Linked DNA regions of Homo sapiens: region 2 is linked to region 1. The links come from fine-mapping of genetic effects on gene expression. Tissue or cell type: whole blood. Region 1 holds a variant in brackets; the other region holds the start of a gene. All regions are shown on one strand. Distances are from middle to middle.

Region 1 (4,265 bases):
TTCCAGCTTCCCTTGGGGAAAAAAAAATCAGTGCAGGCTGGGCGCAGTGGCTCACGCCTGTAATCCCAGCACTTTGGGAGGCCAAGGCAGGTGGATCACCTGAGGTCAGGAGTTCAAGACCAGCCTGGCCAACATGGTGAAACCCCGTCTCTACTAAAAATACAAAAATTACCTGGGTGTTGTGGCATGCACCCATAATCCCAGCTACTTGGGAGGCTGAGGCAGGAAAATCCCTTCAACCAGGGAAGTGGAGGTTGCAGTGAGCCAAGATCACGCCATTGCTCTCCAGCCTGGGCAACTGCGTCTCAAAAAATTAAAAAAATGGTGCACCTCTCATCTGGCCTGCCCCCTTGGATGGACACTGTCACTGTCCACTTTTCCCAGCCCCACCCAGCCCCTGAAGGCACTGAACTTGCCACCTCTCACTCAGTCCTACATCTCCTGAGGTCCAGAGAGGGAAGTGGCTTGCCCAAGGCCACGTGGCCAGGTGGAGGCAGAGTGGGGGCTGGGGACTCAACCTCCTGATGCCCAACTGAGGGCTGTGCCCCAGCCCCCAGCAAGTACATACCCTGGGCCAGTTGCCAGCAGGGACAGAGATGACACCCTACTGCCCACTCTTGGAGCTTGTGGCAAGTTGAGGAGACATTTCAACTCTGCCACCATCACTGGCCCCCGACTTGCCAGCCCCTGAGCTGGACACTGCTGAGAAGAGTTGGCTCCCACCTGCTGTGTGCACTGGAGGGTGCACAGGCTGACAGCGGAGGCAGGTGCCTGCACAGCCAGCCCTGCGTCAGCAGGATCATGGGAGGCCGAGGAGCAAGCCATGCAGCCCCACGTCCCCCAGTCCCTGCCACACCAGCCCAGAGGAGGCAACATCTTTAATTTTGAATGAACAGGGCTGAGTGCATTGGTAGTAGGTGGGGTGCCCTGCAGGTTTAGGAGGAAGTCGGGGTGTGAGCCCTAACTTTAATACATGCACCTGGCTGAGCTGACTGCAGGGTATGGGTTGGTGACCAGGGATGGGACTGCTGTGTTAGTTGTATGGGAACCATTGCAGGGGTTTGAAGTGTGAGATCGGATTCTCTTTCTAGAAATAGCGAGGTTGAGGACGGCACTGAGCTAGGAGGTAGCCAAGGGAAGGCACACTTTGGGTGGTGGGGCCGGGGGTGGAGGCTGGATGAGTTAGGTGGCCACGAGGGAGGAAAGGAGGGAGGCTTCCTGGGAGGTGGGGGCCCTGCTGACTGCAAGAGGCAGAAGGAGAGTCGGGATGGCGCAGGCAGCGAGGGTGGGCGGGGAGCCTGGCTAGGGACCCCGGGGCAGGAGCTGATGGGGGCCACAGAAGCGGGGCCTCAGGAGAGCCGAGCCCGGGAAGCCGTTTGCAGCTTCAAGGAGTGGCTGCATGTGCTGGCCTCTGCTGTCGCCCTGGGCTGGTGGGACCCATGAGTGGGAGCTGGGTTTGTCCCTAGGTTACTGGGTTTTCCTGTGGGCCATTGTATGAGGAGGGGTCCAAGCGGGCTCATCTGCTGAGAATGGGAATCAAAGATTGGCTGGTGGCCTGTGGCCTCAGTCACCATCCTAGTGTGGGCAGTGGTGTATGTGCCCACAAATGCTAATGGACCGGGCTGCAGCAGGCATGATTCTGGAGGCTGTGCTCCCAGGACTTC[C/T]CAGTGCTCCCAGGACTTTCCAGTGCTCCCAGGACTTCCCAGTGCTCCCAGGACTTCCCAGTGGGGCTGGGGTCCCTGGGCCACCCCATGGGGGCATGGACGTGGGTCCCTCTTGGGCTGTGTTGGCCGGTGCCTAGCACGGTGCCAGGACATGTTGCCAGATGCATGCTCCTGGTTGAGAGCCCGGGGCACTGTAGCCAGCCTGCCTGGGCAGGAACCCATCGCTCTCGACTTACTGTGCCTCTCCATGCCTCAGTTTCTTCATTGGTAATTCAAATTAGTTCCTTGCCTCTTAGAATTGTTGTGAGGGTTAAATAACATCCTGTCAAGTTCACCATGGCTGTCGTTGCTGTGACTGTGTGGGTGCCGTGACGGCTGTGGTTGTGGGCAGTGTCTCCCACCAGCCAAGGGCAGGCGACTGTGTAACCTCCCAAGTGCCTCTGGGCTCTGGTCCCCACCTTGCACAACCTGAGCTGCTGCCACTCCTGGACCACCCCGGCCCCAGCTCTGGCGGGGCACACATTAAACCAGTGAGATATGAAATGCCGCCATATGTGGGACAGGGTCTTTAATTAAATTAATTGCCAGCAACATTGTAAAAATGCTGACGGGGCCATAAATGGTGTAGGCCACGCTGTTCATCATCCCCGCGCCGGGGCCACACCTGGGCTGGGGGCGGGGCTGGCCATGGCGGGCTGCAGCCTCTGAGGGAGCTCTGTGCACCCCCCTCGGGTGGCCCCCGGAGAGGGGAGGGGAGCATGGGGGCAGGAGGCAGGGGAAGAATGTACTGTCAGGAGGGGCTGCAGAGTGGCACTCCTAGTTGGGGCAGCTCCTGACTTTCCAGCTGGCCTGTCTTGAGGGGCAACTGTGGAACAGGTGCACTGTCCTTACTCGGCCTTATGGTGCGTGTGCCTGGGGAAGAACCCGGATGGAAATGGGGAGGGTGCCCCCAGAGCTACTCTAAGTAGAGTTACCTCCATCCGTGGGCAGTCGGGTGATCTGCCCCGGCTCTGCCATGGTCGCTGTGTGTCCTTGAGCTAGTCATCCCGTCTCTGAACTCATTTCCTCATTAGGAAGACAGAAGGACCCTACCCACCTGCCTGCCTCTGTCGTGTTCCCAGCGCCCTGCCGGCTACCCTCTCTTGGCCTCTCGCCTTTTGGGGAGCTGTGCCAGGAATTCTTTATGTCTCTCTCAGCCGGGGCTGCCACAGGCCTTGCCAGGGCTCAGAGCCTGCCTACCGCCCCTACTGCTTGTGAGGCAGCTGGGCCGGCCACCTGCCTCTGCCAGGTGAGAGGTGAGGGAGGCTCACACACACTCACACACACCACACACACAGAAACACACATACACCACACAGAAACACTACATACACCACACAGAAACACACACATATCACACACAGAAACACACACAGAAACACATACACACCCCACACACAGAAGCACACACACACACACACTACAGCTACCAAAGCACAGGCGCCGGCCAAGGATCCCAAGGCAGGAAAGCGCCTTCCTTCCCCAGTTTTCCCTGGGCCGTGTGACCACATAATTACCCTGGATTCCATTCTATTTAATTGCAGCTTATTAAGTTCTAACCAGCCAATTATCAGCCACAATTACAGCTTAATTCAGGGACACAATAGCTATTTTATCATTTGTTAATCAAATGCTTATTTAGACCTCAGCTTTATTAACTATTTCTCTGGCCTGAGGCGAGGCCCCTCAGCAGGAAGGGGCCCTTGGTTGGGGCCATAGGAGCCCGTCCCCCCATCACAGCACTCCCCCCGGGAGTTTCTGAGTTCCCTTTGCGGTGGGTTCAGGTACTTAGCGATGGCAACAGTGTCACACTAAGTGTGGGAAGGCCCAAGCCAGTTCACTCTGCGTTTGCGACATCTTGGCTCAGCTCCTGCCCAGTGCTAGGCCCTGTGCCTGGTGCTGGGACCGGTGGCAAGACAGATGTGGTCCTGCTGTTGTGACATGTTTTACGGAAGAGTAACCAAGTACACAAACAAGATGACCTCAGGTGGTGGCAGGCGTGAGGAGGAAAACAGACTGGGAAAGGGGAGGGAGAGGAAGAGCTCCTTCACACAGGCCAGGTCCTCGGTGACAGTGACTCCGCGGGAGCAGAGATGGGACGGGTTAGAGCAGGCAGCTGTGGGAAGATCGGAGGCAGCGTGTGCGGGCACGACAAGTGCAAAGGCCCTGCAGTGGGGTGAGTGCAGAGCATTTGAGAACAGATACAGGAGCCCTGCCCCACTCCTGGCCCCGGCCATTTGGCTAAAGTCCTTGGTGGGTTGTACCACCTTAGGAAAGGCCTGAGCCTCACGTTCCTTGTCTGTACAACCAGAGGCAGGAAGAAGGAGCCTGTGAGCAGTGGCCGGGGCGGAGGACAGGCCTGGTCTGCAGGAGCTGGCGGGCAAGGGACCAGCGGTGCCCCTGCCCAGAGTAGTCATCCTCTGAGATGGGAGCGGTGCCGCCCCCGCCCTGCCCCTTTGTTCTTTGTGGTTCAGCCTGTCTGCATGTCCTCCTCGTGACTCCTGTGTCCGTCCTTGTGACCAGGCCCCTGGAGCCCACTGGGGAAGAGGGTGACTTTCCTCC
Region 2 (4,121 bases), 620 kb after region 1:
TCTGCTTTTAGGAGAAAATGGGGTGTTGGTAGACAACACCCCTCCAGGCTGGAGGGCAAAGGAGGTGTTCTGGGGTGAGCTGTGCTTCTCCCCAGGCGGGGCCTTATCCCAAAGCCAGCTCCTTCACCAGGCCAAGCCGGCCACTTGCCCAGAGCTCCTCCCATGATCTCAGCCCCCCTGGGGCAGGGCTGGGACAATGGGTGGGCCGCCTGCCTGCTGAGCCTGTGCCGGCCTCTCCTGTGACTGACCTGCAGGACACGAGAGCTTGTCTCTCGCGTCCATCCCTCCAGGCCTGGCTGCTGGCCAGTGCTGCAGTACCATGCCATGGATGCCCAGCCATCTCATCCTCTCCTCCAGAAGCCCCCAGGTCAGAGTCCCCACCTGGCTGCCCTCCCAGTGTGCGGGTGAGGCCAGCCCAAGCGGGGTCCCTCAGACCTGCCCTCCTCTTTGCCTCAGTTTCCTCAAGAAGAACCTGTTCCCATCTGCCAGCAGGGAGAGGAGGCCTAGGAACCAGATGGGCACCTTCCCTAGAAGAAGAGTATTACGGGGGGGTTAAAGGATTCCAGGATGGGGCTGTGAGGAACCCCTCGGTTTCCTTTTTCCACCACCCTGGGCCGCCAGCCCCAGAGCAGGTGGTCCATCCCCTCCCCCAGCTCAGCGGGAGACAACAGCTGGGGGGCGGGGTGAGGGGCGGCCCAGCTCCTCCCCCATCAGGGACCGAGTGCCCCTTGCTGGGGGCCGGTGGATCTGTTCACCCCTTCAGCCGTCTTTGGGGGCTCCCTCCACACTTGTTCTCCAGAGGGCTTCCTCCCAGGGATCTCAGCTGGCCCCTTAGGCAGCTCGGTGCCCCCCAGCCCAGCTGCCTAGTCCCCGCAGTCCCCTTCAGGTAGGGGAGGAGAGCTCACCCCTGCCTCCTCCGCGACCCGCGGCGGTAAGGGAGTCACTTCGCGGTCGCCATGTGGCAGCAAACATCCTTCCACCTCACTCCAGCCCAGGTTTCGGGGGGAGGGCGGCCCACTCCGAGAGGCCCCCCGGTGGGCGGGGCGCCCGGCCCCCAGCCCGCTCCGCTCCTCCCCCGCCCTCGCTTTCCTTTGTGCTGTGGCCGGGCCGGGCTGAGCCGGGCAGGCTGCGCTGGCTCCGCTAGCTCGGTCCCCGCCCCGTCCCCGCCCGGACCTCGCCCGCTCGAAGGTGGCGAAGGTGCCCTTGGCCGCCCCGTGCACACCTGTCCCCCGGGCCCGGGGGGTAGGGTGGGGGATGGGCTCCCGCAGGGCCACGCGGCCCCGGGCCCCACATCGGGACCCCGCGCCTCCGGGCCGCGTCCGGCCGCCGCTCCCACCGCGCGCCTTGGGCCGCCTCCGGGCGCTCGGGGCCCGGCAGTGCCCCGCCTGGCCCGCCGGCCCCTCCCCCGGCGCGCACAAAGGCAGCCCCTCCCGGCCCTCCCGGCCCGCTGCACCATTTCGGGGTCCCCCTCCCTTCCCGGCGGCGGGGCGGCGGGGCGGGAGAGAAACAAAGGCGCGGCGGCGGCGCGGGGACAAAGGGGCCGGGGGCGGGGGCGGGGGGCTCACCAGTCGGCCGCGCTCTCCTCTCGGATCACCTCCTCGTAAGCCGCCAGCAGCTCCAGGCGGTGGCCGCTGAAGCTGACGCCGGCCATGCTTCGGGCCGGACCGGGCCGAACGGACAGACGCGCGGACGGACGGGCGGACGGAGGAGGAGGGAGGGAAAGAGGGAGTCGCCGCCGCCGCCTCGGAGCCTCTGCAGCGTCGCGAGCCGAGCGAGCCAGCGGCCGGGGGAGGGGAGCCGGCCGGCGGGGGGCGGGGGGCGCTGGCTCCGCCCGGCTCGCTCCCTCCGCTCGCTCGGTCCTAGCGCCGCCCCGGCCCGGCCCAGGGGGAGGCCCGCCCCCCCTTCCCGGCCTGCCCCGGGCGCCCCTCACCCACCGCCCCTGCGCGCCGCTCCAGGGCCAGCCCCACCCACGTCCCGAACCCTCACCTGCCCCGTCCGTAACCTCGGCGCTAGCCCTCCTTCCAGCCCCGAACCCAGTCCCGTCCCCACCTCCCCCCGCCCACCCCCCGTCCCAATCCGGTTCCGCCCCACCCATTGCTTCATTGATCTCCATTCCTGGTGCGTCCCACCTCATGTTAAACCCATTTTCATCCCAACCCAGCTCACACAACACCCCACCCCTGGCCCGTCTCCTTTCCCTGAGAGGTCCTTGCCTAGTCTATCCCATCATATCCACTGTCATCTGCATCCCACCCTCAAATCCACCCCAGTTGCTTTCCCATCCCAGCTTCAGCCCCATGCTTAGCACGTGTCCCCCCCAACATGTGTCACGGCACATCTTCAGTCCAACCCATCCCAGTCTCATCCTGATCCCAGTTCCCAATTCCCAACCACAGCCCCCCATCTCGGCTCCATGACCACTTATTCCAGGCCATTCTCAGCCCCTACCCAGCTCATTATCCCTCCATTCCAGGCCTCTCCTCCCCTCCACGCCTGTGCCCTCTCAGATGGGGCCAGCTAGGAGATCCTTTGCATTCTCTCTCAAGCCTCACGCCTCCCAGAGGAGTCCCAAGTAGAGTTCCGGAAGCAGCATCTAACCCCAGACTCCCACGGCAGGGCTCCTCCAAGGACGCTCAGGGCCAGCCTCTTGGCACCTTTATCTCCTAAAGCTCTAAGCACAGAACGGGAGGGGGCCTCAGAAAAGTACCCCCTGCAAGGGAGTGGACACCATGCCAGGGCCTTCCAGAACTCCGTTCCTTGCTAGGTTGGGACCCTGAAACCGTCCACAGCGCTTAGAAGCCTTTTCCACCACTACAAAGCCTCCAACCTCGACCTCCCTGAGCAAACTTCACCTGGTCCCAACCGCACCGCGGAGGAGGAGGTGGTTCTAGCCAGGCCTCCGAGTTCTGCGTTGGGTAATTGGCTATGCCAAGAGAAGGAGAGCAGGGCTGCCTATGTGGCAGTGTTCCTGGCGCTTTGGAGTTGGGAGAACCCTCTTAAAACTCAAAATACTCACAGGCCCCTGCCTTGGGAAGTCAGTGCCCACTATGTCTAGGGACCACAGGCCATGGCAATTTCTCCATGGCCACCACTAGAGTGAGGCACCCAGGCAGGGACACAGCCAGGCCCTGTGCCCTAGACCAACTGGCCAGTAGGTGTGGTTGGCCTGCCATGGGGATCCCTAAGGGAGTGGGTGACACATGGTGGGGAAGGGAAGTGGGGAGAGCCATGGAGGGACAGAGCTTCAGCCATCCCCCACCCTTAGGCATGAAGAGCCTGATTCTGGTGAGGAGGGAGACCCTGCAGCCGGGGAGGGGCAGCAGATGGCTGGCCATGAGCATCTGTGGCCTCAGCCTCTTCCAGCTTCCTTTGATTTGTCCTAGCTCACAGCTCCTCGCCCCCCCCGCTCCCCTCACCCCCCAGCCTCCTGCACACTCAATTTTGCATCCAAAAAACAGAAGCCCTAAATGCATCTAAGCTCTTCCTTCCTCAAATTCCTGCCTCCCCACCAGCCACCTACAAACTCTCCAGCCACGCCCACTCTCACCTCTTGCCATCAACATTTTTAAATAAACTTTCTATTTTAGAACAGTGTTAGATTTACAGAAAAGTTACAAAGATAGTATAGAGAGTTCCCATACACCCTGCACTCAGTTTTCCCTATTTTCAGGGAAGCAAGGGTGTTCCCTGCTGGCATGCCCTAGAGCCCACTCCCCTGGTCTCCGCACCCGTCACCCTTCCAGGTTATCTTCATCCCCTCATTTCTATAGGATGCAGACAGACATCTGTCCTCTGTCTCCTCCTCCCCGCATTTTCTCTGGCACTGCTCTGGCCAAGGTCACCAGTAACCCCTAACTTGCCAAACTCAGTGGACCCATAGTTCTCAGTTGCCCTGACTGGTGGGAGTGGGTGGCCACTGGTCACTGTCCTCTGAGAACCTGCCTCCTTTCAGCTGCTGTTGCCCCTGAAGCCCACACACTCAGCCTTGGTGGGTGGGAGGCTGGTGGGTTCCTCCTACCAGGACTTCGTGTCTGCCACCCCCAAACCGATCACCCTTCAAGTCACTGACAGGTCGGTCTCTCCCACCCCCAGAGCATGAGCTCCCCCTACACACAGCGGGA

Evidence for each region. PIP is the estimated chance that this variant, and not a neighbour inherited with it, causes the effect.
Region 2: it holds the start of DBN1, and the variant in region 1 is fine-mapped to the expression of DBN1 in whole blood (GTEx, PIP 0.90).

The regions. Positions count from the first base shown.
Region 1 is chr5:176,849,268-176,853,532 of GRCh38, forward strand. All of the region lies in intron 1 of UNC5A (unc-5 netrin receptor A), which reads left to right. Among named protein-coding and RNA genes, the nearest start is that of UNC5A, 41 kb to the left of the region's middle. The variant C/T (reference allele first, on the strand shown) is at 1,665.
Region 2 is chr5:177,471,871-177,475,991 of GRCh38, forward strand. It overlaps DBN1 (drebrin 1), which reads right to left and starts at 1,764. Exons shown (of 15, transcript NM_001363541.2): 1 at 1,566-1,764. The coding sequence starts at 1,651. RefSeq lists enhancers at 622-1,125, 1,126-1,627 and silencers at 776-962, 882-1,251, 1,282-1,481, 1,562-1,941, 1,952-2,001.